Linked DNA regions of Homo sapiens. The protein of the gene in region 1 interacts with the protein of each later gene in a pairwise test. Each region holds a gene or a part of one and is shown on either strand. Other genes may lie near its edges. The genes, in order: LAYN and MFSD11.

What was found.
Region 2: the proteins of LAYN (region 1) and MFSD11 interact in binary tests that used the Homo sapiens proteins (3 or more experiments, as listed by UniProt).

Annotation. Positions count from the first base shown.
Region 1 is NC_000011.10:111,557,597-111,562,417, forward strand, and holds the end of LAYN (layilin isoform 2 precursor), read left to right. Parts: coding exon 1-47; intron 48-2,498; coding exon 2,499-2,862; 3' UTR 2,863-4,149; downstream 4,150-4,821. UniProt on the Homo sapiens protein: Receptor for hyaluronate.
Region 2 is NC_000017.11:76,740,858-76,748,152, reverse strand, and holds part of MFSD11 (UNC93-like protein MFSD11), read right to left. Parts: intron 7,197-7,295; coding exon 7,089-7,196; intron 6,225-7,088; exon of another isoform or gene 6,185-6,224; coding exon 6,105-6,184; intron 5,977-6,104; coding exon 5,880-5,976; intron 4,756-5,879; coding exon 4,697-4,755; intron 3,832-4,696; coding exon 3,687-3,831; intron 1-3,686.

The DNA.
Region 1 (4,821 bases):
CTTGTGGTCACCACAGTTGTATGTTGGGTTTGGATCTGTAGAAAAAGGCAAGTAAAACCTTCATTGTGTAAACCTTTGCATCTTCTGCTCTCTTTGAGATTTGGATATTGCCTTGTTTACTTCATTAAAACCCACGGCAGCACCAAGAGTATCACCATTGCAGATTGGAGAGTGGGTTCTCTGACAGGTCAGGGCATTCAGAAGTACTAGGCATTTGTGCTTAGTTGTGATTAAGAGAGTGATCTTACTTGCTTTACTGTCTGTACGTGGAAGATTTTAAAACAACTTGAAGGGTGAAATTGCATTATTCACCTCCCGTGCACTCACACGTCACCCAGCAAAAATGCTCTCATGAATGTATGCCCTCACTCTGAAAATGTTTGTGGACTGAGTGAAGGAATGAATAGTGAGCCATATGAAAAATGACTGCTGCAAAGTATTCTGGTAAACATCTGAAACTAAACCACTTAATTCAAACTGAAAGAGCCAAATTCCTTTTAACTGACTTTTCTTTTAATTCAGTACACAAGTATAGAGTGCTATAAAATAGCTACACTAGGTGGCATCAACAATTTCTGTATATGGTCAGGATCGTGTGCCACTATTTTATTTTATTTTATTTTATTTTTAGTACTGAAAGCTCTTCTCAGTTACCTTTTTATTCTCCATCATCATGGTATATGGAGAAGATGTCTAGTATTCCCATTTACAACAGGAAAACTAAGGCCCAATTTAAGATTTGACTCCCTTTAAAGACCAATTTGAGATGAATTAGTAAGATTCCAATGTAAAATCTATTTCAGTTAATTGTAACTTCCTTGTAGGATTATTATAAGGATTAAGGCAGTTAATACTTGCAGAATAAGTATATACTAAGCACTTGAATGTTACCTATTATTGGGATTATTTTATTAGTTATTTCCTTTGAATCTTAAAGTAGAATTTAGTTCAAAAAATTACAGGCATATTTTCCAGCTGCCTACTCTGCCTACTCAGTTGGTTCTTGATTTCCTTTCCTGACTCTCTGTTTTGTACTTTAACAGGATTTGGGAATTGTGACTCTAAAGCTGGGGTGTCTGTCTATCCCAAGGGTTTTTAATCTTTTTTGTGCCCTGCAGCAGTCTGGTGAGGCCTATGGACTCCTTCCAGAACAATATTTTATTTTATTTATTATTTTATTTAAAAAAATATATATATATATATATATTTGAGACAGAGTCTTTCTCTGTCGCCCAGGCTGGAGTGCAATGGCGCAATCTCGGCTCACTGCAACCTCCGCCTCCCGGGTTCAAGTGATTCTCGTGCCTCAGCCTCCCAAGTAGCCGGGATTACAGGCACATACCACCATGCCTGGCTAATTTTGTATTTTTAGTAGAGATGGGTTTCACCATGTTGGCCAGGCTGGTCTCGAACTCCTGACCTCAGGTGATCCGCCCACCTCAGCTGCCCTAAGTGCTAGGATTACAGGCATGAGCCACCACACCCGGCCCAGTACAATATTTTAAATGCATAAAATAAAATACATTGGGTTGCAAAGGAAGCAATCATACTGTTATATAGTTTAGCAAAATATTTCCAAAAATGAATATGTGATTAGTAATACATGTACTCCTTTATTAATGCTTCTTTATTTAGTGCTGGGTATAATTATTATAATTTTGAAGTAGAGATGAGGTTAAAATATTTCAAGGCATCTATAACTGTGATATGAAAACATCTATAATTTCTAGTAGTGATCAAGTCAAAGATATTAATCCTGCTGTTTTATCTCTTACATTCATAATGGAAGGACATGCTAAATTTCACTTATGGATGAGTCGTGTTTTTTGTTGTTTTGGTTTTATTTTATTTTATTTTATTATTTTATTTTATTTTATTTTATTTTTGAGACAGGGTCTCACTCTGTCGCCCAAGCTGGAGTGCAGCGGTACCATCACAGCTCACTGCGGCCTTGACCTCCCAGGTTATCCTCCCACCTCAGCCTCCCAACTAGCTGGGACTGCAGGTGTGCACCACCATGCCTGGTTAATTTTTGTATCTTTTATAGGGACGGGGTTTTAACATGTTGCCCAGGCTGGTCTCAAACTCCTGGGCTCAAGTGATCCACCTGCCTCAGCCTCCCAAAGTGTTAGGATTACAGGCGTGGGCCACTGTGCACAGCTGAGGTGTTTTTTTGTTTTTTTGGGTTTTTTTTGTAATGTGGTATTTTTTCTCTATTCAGTTCTATCCCTGGACACTCCAGGGACTCTAGGGAACCCCAGGATAATAACCCTGCCCACACTTGGGCAGCAGTGAATGACAGATACACAATCACTTTGAACATAACATCTCCCTGTTTGGTTCCCTCCCACTCCGAAGCCCTGGCCTGTAAGTTACATAGACGAGACATGCAGCTGGGTGACTGCCCAGGGCTGCTTCCTCTCGTCTCAACAGGAAGCACAAGGGTATTCTCAATCACCTGGTCTAAAACACTCAGCCCTGGTTTTCTTTCTTCCTAGAAAACGGGAGCAGCCAGACCCTAGCACAAAGAAGCAACACACCATCTGGCCCTCTCCTCACCAGGGAAACAGCCCGGACCTAGAGGTCTACAATGTCATAAGAAAACAAAGCGAAGCTGACTTAGCTGAGACCCGGCCAGACCTGAAGAATATTTCATTCCGAGTGTGTTCGGGAGAAGCCACTCCCGATGACATGTCTTGTGACTATGACAACATGGCTGTGAACCCATCAGAAAGTGGGTTTGTGACTCTGGTGAGCGTGGAGAGTGGATTTGTGACCAATGACATTTATGAGTTCTCCCCAGACCAAATGGGGAGGAGTAAGGAGTCTGGATGGGTGGAAAATGAAATATATGGTTATTAGGACATATAAAAAACTGAAACTGACAACAATGGAAAAGAAATGATAAGCAAAATCCTCTTATTTTCTATAAGGAAAATACACAGAAGGTCTATGAACAAGCTTAGATCAGGTCCTGTGGATGAGCATGTGGTCCCCACGACCTCCTGTTGGACCCCCACGTTTTGGCTGTATCCTTTATCCCAGCCAGTCATCCAGCTCGACCTTATGAGAAGGTACCTTGCCCAGGTCTGGCACATAGTAGAGTCTCAATAAATGTCACTTGGTTGGTTGTATCTAACTTTTAAGGGACAGAGCTTTACCTGGCAGTGATAAAGATGGGCTGTGGAGCTTGGAAAACCACCTCTGTTTTCCTTGCTCTATACAGCAGCACATATTATCATACAGACAGAAAATCCAGAATCTTTTCAAAGCCCACATATGGTAGCACAGGCTGGCCTGTGCATCGGCAATTCTCATATCTGTTTTTTTCAAAGAATAATAAAATCAAATAAAGAGCAGGAAACAGAGTGTTAGTCTGTGTCTACAGCCCTTCCTCTGCATGTGGCCACAGGGGACCTTTTTTTGTTTCTCCTGACATCCAGACTTGGAAATATCTAACTACTTGCAAAACTAAAAATGAGGCCAGGCGCAGTGGCTGACGCCTGTAATCCCAGAACCTTGGGAGACCAAGATTGGAGGATAGCTTGAGTTCAGGAGTTCCAGACCTTCCTGGGCAAAATAGTGAGACTCTGACTCTACAAAAAATTTAAAAATTAGCAGGGCATGGTGGCATGCGCCTGCAGTCCCAGCTACTCAGGAGGCCGAGGTGGGGGAATTGCTTGAGCCCAGGAGGTTGAGGCTGCAGTGAGCTAGGATCACGCCACTGCTCTCCTGCGTGGGCAACAGAATGAGACCCTGTCTCTAAACAAAAATATTTTTTAAAGAAACTAAAAATGAAATTTGAGTCTCAGCTTCTAGGCTTATGTACTCCCATCCCTGATACTACACGTTGTTCTGTTTGCATGTTTGTTACTGCAGCATCAACATAACATGACTAATAATGATGACAGTTCTACCTTTTGTTGACAGACCTCATTGTTTCAATTGTGTTTGGCCTCAAATTCAGAGAAAAGTTTCTCAGCCCAGCATCAATCATATACACATTGGAGGTCTGAAAGCCATTATTTAAATCACCAGCAATTTCCCTCAATCAGCTTCATAATCTCATATTTTAACCTTTCCTCATATGTCTTATTTTTTAATAGCTCAGCAACTTTGCTTCACATATGGAGCCCCAACCTCTAGAGTTAACTAGTCTGGGTCAAAGCAGTATCGAATGTAGTGGATTGGAATCCCTGCCAAATTATCTGCCCTACTGCAGAACTGAATATACTAGGAAACAAAACTCCCTGTTTTGGGAAGTGTGTTTTGTGGTTACATTTCAAGCAAAAACTGAGCACATGGTCCTGAAGGACTGATTCACTGCTCTAAAATGCCCAAGGTTCCATTCTTGCTTCAGACAGCCTCGCTCTATCATCTGCCCTGTATCCTGCACTGTGCCCCACAACTCTGGCCCTTATTACACTGCAAGCTTCGCTAGTAGGAATCCTATCTGCCGGTCAGCATCATGGGTCCTGCAACCCATGGCAGCACCTTGCAGGGTAGGCAATCAATGTCTATTGAATGGATGAACAATGCATCTTTTCAGACTGATGTCAAATAGTTTGAATATTTCAGCTTAAAAGTTTGTTTTTCACAGTCCCCCTAGGTGGAGGAGGTAACTGAGTCATTGTAATTGGAATGCCTCCCAAGAAGGAAGCATAGTAACAAGTAAACAGATGCTGGTGAATTGTGCTAACAACTTACTTTATGTCACTCATGCTTGAACTGAGGACCCACTGTTAATCTATAAAGGGAGTAAGGTTGTAATCAGAACAGACCCTCAGCATCTTCCCTTCCCTTTTTTCATTAATGTGTTGT
Region 2 (7,295 bases), on another chromosome or scaffold:
TCATGTCTCACCAGCCACGTCTCAGGGAGCCACCCCACTCTCCCCCCTCCCCCCCACTCTCCCCCTCTTTCACAGTCTTCCTAACACTCACTTTGCTATTTTCTTACACGTGCATTGTCTACCACCCCCTCTAAAATTAAGTCCCGTAAGAACAAGGACTTATCTGTCTTGTTCACGCCTATATCCCTCAGGCATAGAAGAGGGCTGCCACAAGTCTGTGCTATTTGTAGAACAAAGACACAGAAGCTCCAAATTTAGGAGACGATTCAGGAAGAGAGAATGCTACAAAGGCTGAGCAGTATTTCTAGAAGAACGCCAGCTCACAGTTACAGAACCCCTCATCCACCTCCCCAACTTGGCAGTTCCTTAAAAACAGGGATGGGCGGCATTTGTCCTCTAGGACCAACACCAAACATGTGCTGGCTGAATGGGGGGGTCAGTTTTCATTGAATTTGTGGTATTCACTTTCACAGACTCCTTCTCCAGTAACTACTGGTTTGTGCTTTAAAACAAAATGTTTTGCCAGGCGCGGTGGCTCACGCCTGTAATCCCAGCACTTTGGGAGGCCAAGGCGGGTGGATCACGAGGTCAGGAGTTCGAGACCAGCCTGCCCAACATAGTGAAGCCCCGTCTCTACTAAAAATACAAAAATTAGCTGGGTATGGTGGCATGTGCCTGTAGTCCCAGCTACTCGGGAGGCTGAGGCGGAAGAATCACTTGAACCTGGGAAGCAGAGGTTGCAGTGAGCCAAGACTACGCCATTGCACTCCAGCCTGGGTGAAAAAGTGAGACTCCATCTCAAAAAAAAAAAAAGTTTCACCATGTTGCCCCGTCTGGTCTCAAACTCCTAAGCCCAAACAATCCACCTGCCTCAGCCTCCCAAAGTGCTGGGATTACAGGCGTGAGCCACTGTACCCAGCCCCAGGCACAGATGTTCTTAATGTGACCTACCTAGAATGATGACTCCTTCTCAAAAGGTTTACAATTTACTTTGCTTAGATCTGAAGAATCATTATCTATGGCAGCTATATCCTCATGAAATGTATTTCTTAAATAATAAGACTTGAAAGTTGAAATTAGCCAGGCATGGTGGTGCACGCCTGTAATGCCAGTTACTGAGGAGGCTGAGGCAGGAGGAATCTCTTGAACCCGGGAGGCAGAGGTTGCAGTGAGCCGAGATCCCGCCACTGCACTCCAGCCTGGGTGACAGAGCAAGACTTTGTCTCAAAAAAAAAAAAATGGAAATTACTCCTTGATCCAGGGGCTGCAGAACACATGTTGTTAGAAGGCATGAAAACAACATTCATCTCCTTGTACACCTCCAACAAAGCACTTGGCTGATCAGGTACATTGTCAATAAGCAGTAATATTTTGAGAGGAACCTTTTCTTCTGAGCAGTAGGTCTCAACAGTGGGCTTAAAATAGTCAATAAGCCATGCCGTAAACAAATGTGCTACCATCCAGGCTTTGTCACTGCATTTCTAGAGCCCAGGCAGAGTAGATTAAGCATGATTCTTAAGGGTCATAGGGTTTCTGGAATGGTAAATGAGCACTGGCTTCAACTTCAAGTCATTAGCTGCATTATCCCCTAACAAGAGTCGGCCTGTTCTTTGAAGGTTTAAAGCCCGGCATTAACTTCTCTCTAGCTATAAAATTCCTAGATGGCATCTTTTAATGTAAGACTGTTTGGTCTACATTGAAAACCTGTTGTTTAGTGCAGCTACGTTTGTCAATTATAATGGCCAGATCTTCTGGATAACTTGCTGCAGCTTCTCCAGCAGCACTTGCTGTTTCACCTTGCACTTTTATGTCATGGAGATGGTTTCTTTCCTTGATCCTCACGAACCAACCTCTGCTAGCTTCAAATTTTTCTTCTAAAGATTCCTCACGTCTCTCAGCCTTCACAGAATTGAAGAGAGGGACTTGCTCTGGATTAGGCTTCAGAGAATGTTGTGGCTGGGTTGATCTTCTATCCAGACCACTAAAACTTTCTCCGTATCAGCAATAAGGCTGTTTCACTTTCTTATCATTCGTGTGTTCCCTGGAGTAGCTCTTTTGAGTCCCTTCAAAAACTTTTCCTTTGCATTCACAACTTGGCTGTTTGGCACAAGAGGCATAGCTTTCAGCCTGTCTCAGCTTTCTACATGTCTTCCTTGCTAAGCTTAGTCATTTCTTGATTAGTCATTAGCCGGGTGTGGTGGTGCATGCCTGTAATCCCAGCTACTTGGGAGGCTGAGGCAGAGGCTGCAGTGAGCCGAGATCATGCCACTGCACTCCAGCTTGGGTGACAGAGCGAGACTCCGTCTCAAAAAATAAATAAATAAATAAATAAATAAATAAGTAAATAATAAAGTGAGAGACATGCATGTCTTCCTTTCACTTTAACACATAGAGGCTATTGTAGGGTCATTAACTGGCCTAATTTCAATATTGCTGTGTCTCAGGAGAAGAGGGAGGGAGATGGGGGATGGCCTGCAGTGGAACAGTCAGAACACACACAACATTTATCAATTAAGTTCACCACCTTATATGGATCTGGTTTGTGGTGCCCCAAAACAATTGCAATAGTAACATCAAAGATTACCGATCACATCTTATAACAGATGTCATAAGAATGAAATGTTTGAAGTATTGTGAGAATTACCAAAATGTGACAGAGAGACACAAAGTGACCACACGCTGTTGGAAAAGTGGTATGGAGAGAAAGACTTACTCGATGCAGGGTTGCCACAAGCCTTCAATTTGTAAAAAACCCAGTGTCTGTGAAGCACAATAAAGAGCAAGAAAGCAGGGCATGGCAGCATATCCAGACCAAAGCGCTGCCTTGCTTCTGCTTTACACAAACTTACTGCAAATCTGGAGCATCTAATGCTCCTATGACTGGACAATTTTAGGCCCTTTCTGGATTACAAAGTCAGCATGGGATGCTCAATGCGAAAGTTTTAACAATATATAAAATGCTATAAGGCAATCTTCACAATGTATCACAAACAAAGCAAAACAAGGGTGGCAGAGATTAATTTCTCATCTCTCCTTCCTCAAATCTAAATGATACTGCAGATCACTAGCCTGTCATGCTTAAATAGTGTCACCTGAAACTGAAATGTGCTTAGGTAATTTACAATTTTTACAAAACACAGGGTTGTATACTCATTCCCCTATTTGGACCACTCTGGGGAAAACCGCCTATGTAAGTTAGTGCAAGAGCCGGACACCATAAGCAAGAGCCTAGTGATAACCAAGGTTCATCTGTGACAACCATCACTGGCCCTGCCACTCACTCACACCACAAGAACAGGAAAGCTTTAGAGCTGGATCACAGAAACAGTAACCAAGGTCAACACTGCCTTCTATTTCCTTGCCCATGGAAACATATGGATTGAGTGAGAAAGCTGAGGCCTGGAGACATGAAAGGAATTGCTGCCACTGTCCAGGGTCACACACATCAGTGGCAAGGCCAGGAACAGACTCAACTTCCCTGTGCACCTTTTCACCACCTCCCTTCCTCTGGTGACCTTTTTTTTCTTCCTCCCTCGCAGCTCCTCCTTTATTTTCTTCCTTTTCTTGCCTGTGGTAACCTACAGAGAGTACTGGACATCAGTTAGGGCTAAACGGGTTGGTAATCTCTAGACTAGATCTACTCAAAATCTATTTTAAAATAAAATAGAATGTTTCCAACATCTTACTCGTTGACTTCCATGTCCTGGTCATCAGAAGACTCATCTTCTCCTAGGACATTTTCAGAATCTGGTTTCCGAATGAGAAAGAATAGAACTGTCCCCACAAGGCTAATCACCGTTAGGGCAATAAACACTGTTCTTCGGTCACTCTCTACGGAGAAAAAAGAAGAAACAAGATAGTATCGACCAAACAATTCCAGAATTAGTATCACGGTACAAGGGCTGCTTACAACTGTCAACACACTTCCTCGTTACATTTTTACTTTAATGCATCAGTAAAAACCTAGGAAAAGGAGACAAATAGGATACCTTCACCTTTGTCTTTCAGTTAGAGAAATATGAATAAGCCAAAGAAAAACAGCACAAGGGCTTAATCGCCTTCTTTTAATCAAAGAAGGGTCCAGAGAAAACAACTGAGCATTCAGAAGTCTTCTGAGAACCACATACTCGTGCGCAGTATTCTCGTAAGCTCGTGCACAGCATAACCTTCCCTTAGACCCTGAGAAGCCCCTTAAAGCATAGTCATAAACTATAATCCTAGTTTAGTAATAGAAACCAGGCTGGGAGGGATGGCTCAGGCCTGTAATACCACCAATTTGGGAGGCTGAGGAGGGCGGATCACCTGAGGTCAGGAGTTTGAGACCAGCCTGAACAACATGGAGAAACCCATCTCTACTAAAAATACAAAATTAGCTGGGCGTGGTGGTGCAGGCCTGTAATCCCAGCTACTTGGGAGGCTGAAGCAGGAGAACTGTTTGAACCCGGGAGGCGGAGGTTGCGGTGAGCCAAGATGGCACCATTGCATTCCAGCCTGGGTAACAAGAGTGAAACTCCATCTCAAAATAATAATAATAATATAAACCAAGGAAAAGTCTTACTAAAAGCTAAAATCTGCGAGAACTTGAGGTGTCGGGGTTCATGAGAACGATGCTTGAATAAAGCAATAATGGGTATTTCTATATAACTCCTATTATGCTTTGAACATATCTGAATAAAGCAACGCGAATAAAACAAACCTGATATCTGAGTTTTCCCTTGCCAGGCAAAATATATGTAGAGATTTCCAAAGAACAAGCTGGGGGAAGAAAAGGGAGGATAGGATGTTGGGTAATTATTTTAATATTTATAGTTTTTTAAAAATAATTATTCCCATTATTTGTTGTAAGAGAGGGAGAGAGAAGGACATCATTTTTAAAGTATCTACCTGTCCTGGGTCATTTAAAAGTATCAGCTTCATCTGGACTCTGATAAACTTAACTGCCCCAGATGGAATTCAGTCTCCTTCCATGTGACAGTAACCTGATTCAGAGGCACCCTTCAAAGAAGAATTGACTCACTTTGAAACATGTGATTTATTGCAACTCTGGAAATGACTCCCTGGAAATAAGCTTAAGCTAAATTTTAAAGAATCTGTTTCTAAAAATCCATGATTTAGTTATCTGCATCTAATCAAATACTTTCTTTAGCATACTTTCCTGAAAAATCATTCACTTACACACTAGTTTCTTAATATACAACTCTTTAAAATGTAACATTTGCATTTGTTAAGCCTTGTCAAGGCCAAAATTTTAGGCGCGATTCATGAGGGTGATTCCTCAGAAGAGATTCCAGAAATCCAACAGTCAAGAGCAGAATAGCTGTTTTGCTTTCTTCTTAAGAAAAATGTTAAGGCCAGGCACGGTGGTTCACGCCTGTAATCCCAACACTCTGGGAGCCCAAGGCGGGCGGATCACAAGGTCAGGAGTTCGAGACCAGCCTGGCCAACATAGTGAAACTCCGTCTCTACTAAAAATACAAAAAAAATTAGCCGGGCGTGGTGGTGGGCGCCTGTAATCCCAGCTACTCAGGAGGCTAAGGCAGGAGAATTGCTTGAATCCAGGAGGCAGAGCTTGCAGTAAGCCGAGATCGTGCCATTGCACTCCAGCCCAGGTGACAGTGTGAGACACCGTCTCATTTAAAAAAAAAAAAAAAGTTAGTATGCTATATTCAGTATTGGTATAAATAGTCCTGAGTAGCTAGTGAGCCACCATACTCAGCCATTATTACAAGTGATTCTATAAAATTGGAATCACGTCACATTTAGCTAGAACTTAAGTCACGTAACATGGAAGATCCAAATTGTCAACCAAAGACCTAAAAAATGGTATGACAGAAAAAAAAGAAAGAAAAGGAAAGACTGAACCTCAAAAGGATAATTACCTAGACTGCAGAAGTGCCCAGAAAATCCCACTGTTTCTCCCAATGCTGTGCTCATCCGAATTGATTGTCAGGCAGTTTCCTTGTGCTGTCCAAAGCACTAAAATTCAACCCAAAAGTTTATCAAGGGAAAGAAATTCACTTAGAGTCACATACTAAACACATAAATAATACCCTTAGATAGGCCCCAGAAAAGAAAGCAGAGAAGTTAAAAATCAAAATGCTTACCAGCAGCAGCAATTCCAATGAAAACAGAGGCTGTGTAGAAGGACCACGGGAAAGGCTGGATGAAAACGGCAATGTACATGCTAAAATATAACAGGTCAAGGTATTACAGTCAAACGATACCTGAAATAGAATGCCAATTATGCCTTCTAGGAATCAGTTCTGACATTCTCTTCTTTTAAAACTCAACCTGTAAAGGATCGCTCCAGTTTTGAAAAAAGGGACACAATCAACTTTCTCATTTCTTAATTAATTAATTTTTTTGAGACAGGGTCTCACTCCATTGCCTAGGCTGGAGTGCAGTGGTACCATCACAGCTCACTGCAACCTCCACCTCCTGGGCTCAAGCCATCCTCCCACCTCAGCCTCCTAAGTAGCTGGGACTACAGGCATGTGCCACCAAGCCCGGCTAATTTTTTTTTATTTTTGGTAGAGACAAGGGTTTCACCATGTTGCCCAGGCTGGTCTCGAACTCCTGGACCCAAGTGATCCTTGGCTCAAGCAATACCTCGGCCTCCCAAAGTGTTGGGATTTACAGGTGTGAGCCACTGTGCCTGGCCCATAATTTATTATTTCAGATTTGCAAAATCAGACATTTTACAGGTTTGCAGTGTTCTTTGCCAAAAGCTTAGCACATCATGGAACTATAGTTCTAGAGTTCAGAGAAAGATTTAGTTATTTCATTTGAATCCCCACATATTTTCAGTCAATTGACAGAAAATAAGATTATTTCATAGAATGTTCTTTTCAACCCTCATAGAGACTTTTGGATACTATTTTTATTAACAATAAAACAAAAGCAGATATAGATACATCCTATCACATTAGAATATGATATCCCTGAGCAACAAGTACTGAGCCAAAATTCGTAAAATACCACCTATATTCTATTCAGTCCAAGTCTATAAATTATTGTGAAGTTTACTATCTACTTGAAAGATCCTGACAAGTGTTCTGATTAAATAAGTGCAAGATTACACTACTTACCTGTAAAATAAACCACTGGCAAACATAGAGAGTTGAGGTCCTACAATGGCAACCACTGACGGTGTAATCAAATTTGAAGCAGAGAACACTCCATAGATAATAGCCATGCTGCACACATAATACACAAACGGAAAAAAAAAAAAAAAAGAACAAAGCCCTTATATGCTGTGTCACTGTTTAAAATCCATTTGTTTATAGATTTTACAA